Linked DNA regions of Homo sapiens: region 1 is linked to region 2. The links come from fine-mapping of genetic effects on gene expression. Tissue or cell type: whole blood. Region 2 holds a variant in brackets; the other region holds the start of a gene. All regions are shown on one strand. Distances are from middle to middle. Region 1 holds the start of ITGB1BP2 (integrin subunit beta 1 binding protein 2). Region 2 has its middle 22 kb from the start of ITGB1BP2.

Region 1 (5,311 bases), 22 kb before region 2:
ATGCCACCGTCTGACTGGCCAGTCTGATTGACTATGTTTGTTGGAGGGAAGTCAATGAAGGCTAGGCATTATCACATAAAATAGTTGTGAATCCAAATACTTCATGGCTCATGCAATCCTGGGGTTGTTTTGGTTATGGTGTTAAAATGCCAAAACTGGATAGTTTGGTTGTTTCTGTTTTTGTTTTTCTTTTTTTCTTTTTCTTTTTGAGACAGAGTTTTGCTCTTGTCGCCCAGGCTGGAGTGCAGTGGTGCAATCTTGGCTCCCTGCAACCTCCGCCTCCCAGGTTCAAGCGATTCTCCTGCCTCAGCCTCCTGAGTAGCTGGGATTACAGGCATGCGCCACCACTTTTGGGGTTATCCACTAGAGTTCTAAACAGACTTAGTCACCCACTCCTACCTACCATCAGGAGCCTTGAATAGTTGAATGGAAATAGCCTCCAGTGGAGGGACTACAGATGGGTGGGAAGCTTCCAACAATGGCTCTGTTACAGTGTTGCTCTCTTTTTCTCTTTAAGACCCCACCAACAACTGAACGCTTTGGTCAGGCTGCTACAATGGAAGGAATTGGGGCAATTGGTGGAACTCCTCCTGCATTCAACCGTGCAGCTCCTGGAGCTGAATTTGCCCCAAACAAACGTCGCCGATACTAATAAGTTGCAGTGTCTAGTTTCTCAAAACCCTTAAAAGAAGGACCCTTTTTGGACTAGCCAGAATTCTACCCTGGAAAAGTGTTAGGGATTCCTTCCAATAGTTAGATCTACCCTGCCTGTACTACTCTAGGGAGTATGCTGGAGGCAGAGGGCAAGGGAGGGGTGGTATTAAACAAGTCAATTCTGTGTGGTATATTGTTTAATCAGTTCTGTGTGGTGCATTCCTGAAGTCTCTAATGTGACTGTTGAGGGCCTGGGGAAACCATGGCAAAGTGGATCCAGTTAGAGCCCATTAATCTTGATCATTCCGGTTTTTTTTTTTTTTGTCCATCTTGTTTCATTTGCTTGCCCCGCCCCCGAGACGGAGTCTTACTCTGTCGCCCAGGCTGGAGTGTAGTGGCATGATCTCGGCTCACTGCAATCTCTGCCTCCCGGGTTCAAGCTTGTCCAGGTTGATCTTGAACTCCTGACCTCGTGATCTACCCACCTCGGCCTCCCAAAATGCTGGGATTACAGGGGTGAGCCACCGTGCCCAACCTCACTTGCTTCTTATCCTTACACTCCCCCAGCCCCAGAGAAACTGCCACATACACCACAAAAACCAAACATCCCCCAATGACCTTAGCCCCATTGCTCCATTCACTCCCAGGTGAGAATTCAGGCAAACGTCCACAAAGGTCACAGGCAGCGTACATACGGTTCTGTTATACCCCATATATTACCCCTTCATGTCCTAAAGAAGACATTTTCTCTTAGAGATTTTCATTTTAGTGTATCTTTAAAAAAAAATCTTGTGTTAACTTGCCTCCATCTTTTTCTTGGGTGAGGACACCCAGGAATGACCCTTTTGTGTCTATGATGTTGCTGTTCACAGCTTTTCTTGATAGGCCTAGTACAATCTTGGGAACAGGGTTACTGTATACTGAAGGTCTGACAGTAGCTCTTAGACTCGCCTATCTTAGGTAGTCATGCTGTGCATTTTTTTTTTCATTGGTGTACTGTGTTTGATTTGTCTCATATATTTGGAGTTTTTCTGAAAAATGGAGCAGTAATGCAGCATCAACCTATTAAAATACATTTTAAGCCTTTTAATTTTCTGTGGTGTTTTTGAAGGGGAAAGGAGGGAGGGGAGTTATCTTAGGAGATGAGCAGTAGACTCTATAAAGGTAATCCTTTATGACCTTTGGATTACAGTATTGATCTAGACAAACATGGGGAGGAGGTGGGGATGAGGTGCATCAAATGGCTGGAGGGGTTGGCAAGGATTAGCGCTATTGATACTACATGGAAGTAATGATGGAGGAAAGCTGCCCCTCTGAAAGAGGAAGAAAATGGGCTTAATCCTCATCGAGCTGGGGGCGCGGGGGGGGTCTCAAAATTGGTATTTGTTTCTTAGCAGCTGCTGCTGTGTCCAAGGCTTGGAATTGCTGTGGTGAATCTAAAACTGTCTCAGTAGTGGTGAGCTGACCTCACCCAAGTTCAAAGCCCTACTCTGCCTGATCCTTTTTTCCTGAGCCTCAGAGCTAAAATGCCCCCGAGCTCTTTCCTATTGGCTGGAAAGACGAATTGAAGTTCCCTTGCCCATGTTAGGAGGTGTACGCCTCCTGAACTAAAGATAGAAACAGCTGGCCCTTCCAGGCAGCTAAAAGCCTCCAGACTAAGAGGTGTTCCCCATTCGGCAGCCAGACTCCTTGAAATACCCTTTCAGTAATCATTCAACCAACGCTTCCATGTCTCTACTCTGTCGTAACAAAGGCTGTGGGCAGCACTTTGACCCTAATACCAACCTTCCTGGTGAGTAAAGAATCCTGACCTGGCCAGGGGCTCTGTGTGGGTGTTGGGGACTGGTCAGCTGGGGGGCAGTGTGTTTGAGGAGCGGGGAAAGAAACTACCTGCCCTAGTTTAATTGGTCTGAGTGATCTTACAGCCTTTGCTGGCTTTTTTTTTTTTCTTCACATTATATGGGAAGAAACCATAAATAGAAACCCGGGGAAGAGGTGAAAAATGATACTTGGTATAGTTATCTTCCCTTCCTTGATAACTTCTACTGATGTCCACAGATTCCTGTTGCCATCACCCTGGGGTCCCAATCTTCCATGATGCACTTAAGGTGAGGAGTAGGTGAGGGGGGTTAGCAAGAGCATTTCCCAGAAGAGATAATACCCAGGAAGCTAAGCTGATCTGGGTCTCTTGTTATCAGGGTTGGTCCTGCTGCCGAAAGCGAACTGTAGATTTCTCTGAGTTCTTAAACATCAAGGTAAATTATTTATGTACTTGGATTCTGCCCCCAATAGAAGGATTCTATCCCTAATCCTATCTCCTTATCTATACTAGGGCTGTACTATGGGACCACACTGTGCTGAGAAGCTTCCTGAGGCCCCTCAACCTGAAGGCCCTGCTACAAGCAGTTCACTTCAGGAGCAAAAACCTCTGAATGTGATTCCAAAGTCAGCAGAGACCTTGCGCCGGGAGAGGCCCAAGTAAAGAGGAGGAGGCCCCTGGACTTTTCTTATTTTCATGTAGCTTCCTAGGAGTGATTAATGGGTCATTGAGGACTGGGAACTAGGGACCAGGGATGTGAGGAGGGCCAGATGTCAGGGTTTGGATGGTGTATATCCTGTGCCTTAGGGGAAATTTGTGTCTGGAAATAACGCCCTTTCCTCTAAGGTGGTGTGGGATGATGGGATAGATACCTGAATCAACAGAGTAGATAGCCCCTCACAAATACATCCTTAGTGTATAACACAAAAGGGATTGTTGAGAATGACTTCTCTTTCTAGAAAAGAACTTTAAGATAAATCTCATATCAAGAAAAGGATGTATTGTATTATTGGCAGCCAGGAGACTTCCCAAATTTTGTGGGAATAATAAGAGCAACAGAAGGAAGTCATATTAGGTCCACGATTAGATAAAGAGGAAGAGGATATGACTCAGTTCTGCAGAGAAAAGTGGTTAGGTTTAGAGCAACTGAGTAGATGGGTAAGAGAAGTGCTGGGGATTTCTCTAGGGTTCAGGTATTTGGGATGTCCACAGAGATGAAAATTGGCAATGGGGTTGCTACCCAACCTCTCCAACTCTGCCTCACTTTCACCAGGCTTCTTTAATTCCATTACCATCGGTGGGAGTGTTGGAGCTAGCAATCATAGCTAATGGGTCAGAACTAAATCACCACCCTTAACCCCTAGGTCAGAGTTGCCTCTGAAGCTGCTGCCGCTAAATATATCCCAAGCCCTGGAAATGGCATTGGAACAGAAGGAATTAGACCAGGAACCTGGGGCAGGTAGGTGGGTCTTTAGTAGGATCAACTTCATAGACTGGAATTTAGTGGAAGTGGCAATTGAGTGGGGGGATGGATAAGTTCCTGACTCTGTTTCCCTTGCCCAGGACTTGACAGTCTGATCCGGACTGGTTCCAGCTGCCAGAACCCAGGATGTGATGCTGTGAGTGAGAGTTTTGAGGGGCTCAAGCATATGGCTGAGGGATGACTGGGTATAGATAGGCTGAGTAGGATATACCTTAGAATGACCTGGTTCTACTTTATCCTTCTTAGGTTTACCAAGGCCCTGAGAGTGATGCTACTCCATGTACCTACCACCCAGGAGCACCCCGATTCCATGAGGGGTGAGGGAGGGGACTGGGTGGGCTATGAGGCTATGAGACAGGTTTCTCCTAATATTTGGTCATAAGATAATATTGGGGGTGAGAGAATTCAGTTGAATTATCTTCCTACTTCAGGATGAAGTCTTGGAGCTGTTGTGGCATCCAGACCCTGGATTTTGGGGCATTCTTGGCACAACCAGGGTGCAGAGTCGGTAGACATGACTGGGGGAAGCAGGTAAGCCCCAGCTTTCCTGAACTCTTGATTAGAACCCAATCTCAGAGGTAAATTCTCCTCCCTCTCTGTACCACATAGCCAAGCTCCCTGTCTTCTCCCTTTAGTATAGACCAAATAAGATTCTGCTCCTTATCCCTCAACAGCCCAGAGGTTTTGCAATATGAGGTTGTGTTAATCTTTTTGAGACTCTCTGTCTCTTCTCCACGTGCATCATGAGAACTCCCCTTCAGTTAAGAATTTATTCTTACCACCTGCATTTCACATCTTCTCTTTAGCTCCCAGCATCTTGCCGCCATGATTGGCACCAGACAGATTCCTTAGTAGTGGTGACTGTATATGGCCAGATTCCACTTCCTGCGTTTAACTGGGTGAAGGCCAGTCAAACTGAGGTGAGCAATGATCTGATGTTGGATGGGAGGATAGTCAATTGGGTGATACTACAATCTCACAGGCAGAGTTGCCATTTGCTGTTAACCTGTAGGCTCCATAGTACCCTTAGAGGAAAGGAGAGTTATTAGGTCAGGGCTGTCTGGCCAACCTGTGGATCATACCTCTGACCTGGTTATCTGTCGTAATGACCTATTCTGACCTTCTGGGTTTGTTACTACCCCTGTAATTCTTTTCTCTCAGCTTCATGTCCACATTGTCTTTGATGGTAACCGTGTGTTCCAAGCACAGATGAAGCTCTGGGGGGTAAGTGAAGACCAGGGGACACAAGAGTGGGAGGCAGATGGGTGAAAGAGCGGCTAGACTGGAATAGAGGGTGTCTTGAGGGAAGGAGTTGTACTAGGAAAATGGAGGTTTTCTCTTCATTTGCTTTCATT
Region 2 (5,374 bases):
TAGCCTCCCAAAGTGCTGGGATTACAGGCTAGAGCCACTCCACCTGGCCTCCAAATCCTACTTATCTGTTGTAAAATTTATTTTTGTAATTTTTTTTTGAGATAGGATCTTCCTCTGTTGCCCAAGCTGGAGGGTAATGGTAGGATCATGGCTCACTGCAACCTCGACCTCCTGGACTCAAGTGATCCTCTCAGCTCAGCCTCCCAAGTAGCTGGGACCACAGGCTTGTGCCACCAGGCCTGGCTAATTTTTAATTTTTTTTTTTTTTTTTTTTGAGGCGGAATCTTGCTCTGTCACCCAGGCTGGAGTGCAGTGGCACGATCTCAGCTCACTGGAAGCTCTGCCTCCCGGGTTCAAGCAATTCTCCTGCCTCAGCCTCCCCAGTAGCTGGGACTACAGGCGCCCGCCACCACGCCCGACTAATTTTTTTGTATTTTTAGTAGAGACAGAGTTTCACCATGTTAGCCAGGATGTCTCAATCTCCTGACCTCGCGATCCACCTGCCTGGGCCTCCAAAAGTGCTGGGATTACAGATGTGAGCCACCACGCCCGGCCTAATTTTTAATTTTTATAGAGACGTGGTCTTGCCATGTTGTCCAGGCTTATCTTGAACTCCTGAGCTCAAGTGATCCTCCCACCTTGGCTTCCCAAAGTGCTGGAATTACAGGTTTGAGCCACCACACCCGCCCAATCCTACTTATCTTTAACAGGCAGTGCAAATTCCTTCTTTTCCATATTTTTGCTTATAGAGTCATAAAATATCTCTGGAAAGATAAATAAGAGATAAATAACATTTATTGCTTTCCCAGGAATGGAACTGGATGTCTAGAGGATTGAGCTGGGAGGGAGAAAGATACTGATTTGTTGCAGGAGGGATAGTTAATGTAATGAAACTGTCTAATATGAAGTTTTTAGAAGTAGAAGGAGGGAGACTGGAATTTGTAGTTTGAAGAGAAAGAGGAAGGTCTGGAACAGCCTCTGTGGGAGAGTGCCAGGGAATGTATGAGACAAATAAAAGGGTTGCTGAGCAGCTGCAAGGGCCAAGTTGAAATTGGACAGCATGAATTTATATTTGTCTACTTCGTTCTCCCTCTAGCAGTTTCTGGGACTTTGGGAGCAGAAAGGAAGAAAGAGGATAATGGAGGCAGAGGTCTCAGAGACAGTAACATTGGAGTGGCAGTTCATGGAGTGTAGGAGAGAAAACTACTACAACTGGGAGATAATTACTTCATCTGGATGAATTGAGAGGTGGATTACCTAGGCATCTCAGTGAGGTTAGAGAGCAGGTGATCAGAGATGCAAAAGTTATTTGGGGCCCAGTGTGGTGGTTCACACCTATAATCCCAGCACTTTGGGAGGCTGAAGCAGGCAGATCACCTGAGGTCAGGAGTTCAAAAACAGCCTGGCCAACATGGCAAAACCTCGTCTCTACTAAAAATACAAAAATTAGCCAGACGTGGTGGCATGCACCTGTGGTTCCAGCTACTCGGGAGGCTGAGGCAGGAGAATCACTTGAACCCAGGACGTGGAGGTTGCAGTGAGCCACGATCATTGCACCACTGCACTCCAGCCTGGGCAACAGAGTGAGACTCCGTCTCAATAAATAAATAAATAAATAAAAGTTATTTGGAAAAGGCTTATATCAATGTAAGATATCTCGGGATAGCCTGGGAGTCTCGCTCTGTCTCCCAGGCAGGATTGTGGTAGCATGACATCAGCTCACTGCAGTCTCTACTCCCGGGCTCAAGCAATTCTCCTGCCTCAGCCTCCCGAATAGCTGGAACTACAGGCATGTGCCACCATGACTGGCTAATTTTTGTATTTTTTAGTAGAGATGGGGTTTCCCCATGTTGGCCAGGCTGGTCTTGAACTCCTGACCTCAGGTGATCCACCTACCTCAGTCTCCCAAAGTGCTGGGATTACAGGCGTGAGCCACCACGCCTGGCCTATTACTATTTTTTTTAATAGATGAGGAAACAATCCCTGGGATGTTATATGATTTTCCTTAGGTCACACAGCTGGCAAGTGTCAGAGCAGGGACTTAAATCCAGGTCTGACTACAAAACCCATATTCTTTTTTTTTTTTTTTACTGCATGTCATGAAATTCAAAGCCTATATTCTTTGATGTCCAGCAATACTTTTTCAGCAAACACTCCCCTCTATTAAATGAATCTTATTTTGCCAGTGACATCTGTTGTAAAATTATAAATGCATTCTCACCAAAGAAACTATACAGAGTTAAAAGCTTTCAGTGACCAAGGGGTTAACTGGGTAGGGTGAGAGAGAAGCTTGGAGGCACTGAAATGAGTTGAAGGTAATTGCAGTGGTCCAAGGGAGAAAGATGAGACTCCAGATTAACGGTATGGTAGGAAAAATGGAACAGGGGGTAATGGATTTAAGAGATAGTTCCAAAGGTAGGAGTGAAAGTAATGTGGCCATGCTGGTCTTCTGTATTCCCTGAACGTATACAGCTCACTCCTTCCTCAGTTCGTCTGCACTATCTGATACTCCTGCCTGGAATTCTCTCTCTCTCTCTTTTTTTGTTTTTTTGACAGGTTCGCGCTCTGTTACCCTGGCTGGAGTGCAGTGGTGATCTTAGCTCACTGTAGCCTCCACCTCCCGGACACAGGTGATCCTCCCACCTCAGCCTCCCAAGTAGCTGAGACCACAGATGCACGCCACCATGCCCAGCTAATTTTTTTGTAGAGACATGGTTTCGCCATGTTGGCCAAGCTGGTCTTGGAACTCCTGGGCTCAAGCAATTTGCCTACCTCAGCCTCTCAGTGTTGGGATTACAGTCGTGAGCCACTGCGCCCAGCTGGAATTCTCTATTTTTTTTTTTGAGATGGAGTTTTGCTCTTGTTGCCCAGGCTAGAGTGCAATGGTG[C/T]GATCTTGGCTCACTGCAACCTCCACCTCCTGGGTTCAAGCTACTCTCCTGTCTCAGCCTCCTGAGTAGCTGGGATTACAGGCAAGCACCACCATGCCCGACTAATTTTGTATTTTTAGTAGAAACAGAGTTTCTCCATGTTGGTCAGGCTGGTCTCGAAATCTTGATCTCAGGTGATCTGCCCGCCTCGGCCTCCCAAAGTGCTGGGATTATAGGCATGAGCCACCGTGCCCGGCCTTCCAGCTGGAATTCTCTTACTCCAGATCTTTTTTTTTTGAGAAGGAGTTTTGCTCTGTCCCCCAGGCTGGAGTGCAGTGGTACAATCCCAGCTCACTGCAACCTCCACCTCCCTGGTTCAAGTGATTCTCCTGCCTCATCCTCCCAAGTAGCTGGGATTACAGGTGCCTGCCACCACACCCAGCTAATTTTTGTATTTTTAGTAGAGACAGGGTTTCACCATATTGTCCAGGCAGGTCTCGAGCGCCTAACCTCAAATGATCCACCCACCTCAGGCTCCCAAGGTGCTAGAATTACAGGCGATTACAGGCGTGAGCCACTGCGCCTGTTTTTTTTTTTTTTTTTTTTGAGACAGGGTCTCACTGTGTTGCCCCGGCTGGAGTGCTGTGGTGTGATCACAGCTCACTGCAGTCTCAAACTGCCAGGTTCAAGCGATCCTCCCGCCTCAGCTCTCCAAGCAGCTGAGACTATAGGCATGCACCACCATGCCCAGCTAATTTTTGTATTTTTTGTAGAGACAGAGTTTCGCCACATTGCCCAGGCTGGTCTCAAACTCCTGAGCTCAAGCGATCTGCCCACCTCCCAAAGTGCTAGGATTACAGGCACGAGCCACCACCCCTGGCCTCTTCCTCCAGATATTTGAATAGCTGGCTCTTCATTCAGGTCTTAGCTCAAACATCATCTCTCATGATGGGAACTGATTAATTATCTTGAAAACTGGTCAATGAAGGGGAAAAAAAATCAAACATTTATCCTGCCTTTCCTAGGTGAACTGGGTAACAAAATAGTAGATGAGAGGACATGTTGTTACACAACTATTCCAATGAATAAAAAGAAAAATAATAGAATATAACAATTTTTAATTCTCAACAAATAGATATAGGTAGTGAGCATTAACAACTTTTTGTTTTGTTTTGTTTTGTTTTGTTTTGTTTTGAGATGGATTATCGCTCTGTCGCCCAGGCTGGAGTTCAGTGGTGCGATCTCAGCTCACTGCAACCTCCGCCTCCCGGGTTCAAGCAATTCTGCCTCAGCCTCCCAAGTACCTGGGACTACAGGCATGTGCCACCATGCCTGGCTAATTTTTGTATTTTTAGTAGAGATGGGGTTTCACCATGTTGGCCAGGCTGGTGTTGAACTCCTGACCTCAAGTGATCTGCCCACCTTGGCCTCCCAAAGTGCTGGGATTACAGGCATGAGCCACCATGCCCAGCCTAAAATGATTTTTTTTTTTTTGAGATGGAGTTTCGCTCTTGTTGTCCAGGCTGGAGTGCAGTGGCCTGATCTTGGCTCACTGCAACCTCTGCCTCCTGGGTTCAAGTGATTCTCCTGCCTCAACCTCCTGAGTAGCTGGGATTACAGGCGCCCGCCACCATGCCCAGCTAATTTTTTGTATTTTTAGTAGAGATGGGGTTTCACCATGTTGGCCAGGCTGGTCTTGAACTCTTGACTTCAGGTGATCCACCTACCTCGGCCTCCCAAAGTGCTGGGATTACAGACGTGAGCCACCGCCTCTGGCCATTATTTTTTAAAATTAAAAAAAAAAAAAAGGCCAGGTGTGGTAGCACACACCTGTAATTTCAACACTTTATGAGGCTGAGGCAGGAGGATCCCTTGAGTCCAGGAGTTTGAGACCAGCCTGAGGAACATGGCAAAAACTTGTCTCTACAAAAAAATACAAAAATTAGCCAGGTATGATAGTGTGCACCTGTAGTCCCAGCTACTCAGGGGGCTGAGGCAGGAGGATCACTTGAGCCCAGGGCATGGAAGCTGTAGGGAGCCAAGATGGCACCACTGCACTACAGTCTGGGCAACAGAGTGAGAACCTGTCTGTAAATAAATAGGGCTGGGCGTGATGGCTCACGCCTGTAATCCCAGCACTTTGGGAGGCCAAGGTGGGCAGATCACCTGAGGTTGGAATTTCGAGACCAGCCTGACCAACATGGAGAAACCCCGTCTCTACTAAAAATACAAAATGAGCCAGGCATGGTGGTGCATGCCTGTAATCCCAGCTACTCAGGAGGCTGAGGCAGGATAATCTCTTGAACCACAGAGGTGGAGGTTGCAGTCAACCAAGACTGTGTCATTGCACTCCAGCCTGGGCAACAAGAGTGAAACTCCGTCTCAAAAAAATATGTAATAATAATAAATAAAACCTCTCAGAAATGCCTTTTTTGACCATCTTCTTGTTATAAGTAAAATGTTTATTCAGAAACAGAATGCTTGTTCCTCGGTACCACAAGGAAAAA

Evidence for each region. PIP is the estimated chance that this variant, and not a neighbour inherited with it, causes the effect. A credible set is the group of variants that fine-mapping cannot tell apart.
Region 1: ITGB1BP2 starts here. The variant in region 2 is the best candidate, but not a certain one, in a credible set for the expression of ITGB1BP2 in whole blood (TOPMed, PIP 0.62).

Annotation. Positions count from the first base shown.
Region 1 is chrX:71,299,425-71,304,735 of GRCh38, forward strand. It overlaps ITGB1BP2 (integrin subunit beta 1 binding protein 2), which reads left to right and starts at 2,326. Exons shown (of 11, transcript NM_012278.4): 1 at 2,326-2,446; 2 at 2,713-2,762; 3 at 2,853-2,909; 4 at 2,987-3,132; 5 at 3,838-3,932; 6 at 4,037-4,092; 7 at 4,203-4,273; 8 at 4,388-4,487; 9 at 4,763-4,876; 10 at 5,118-5,180. The coding sequence starts at 2,383. NONO (non-POU domain containing octamer binding) reads left to right here. Exons shown (of 12, transcript NM_007363.5): 12 at 518-1,744. The coding sequence ends at 652. RefSeq lists an enhancer at 4,124-5,311.
Region 2 is chrX:71,321,112-71,326,485 of GRCh38, forward strand. No RefSeq gene overlaps it. Among named protein-coding and RNA genes, the nearest start is that of ITGB1BP2, 22 kb to the left of the region's middle. The variant C/T (reference allele first, on the strand shown) is at 2,889.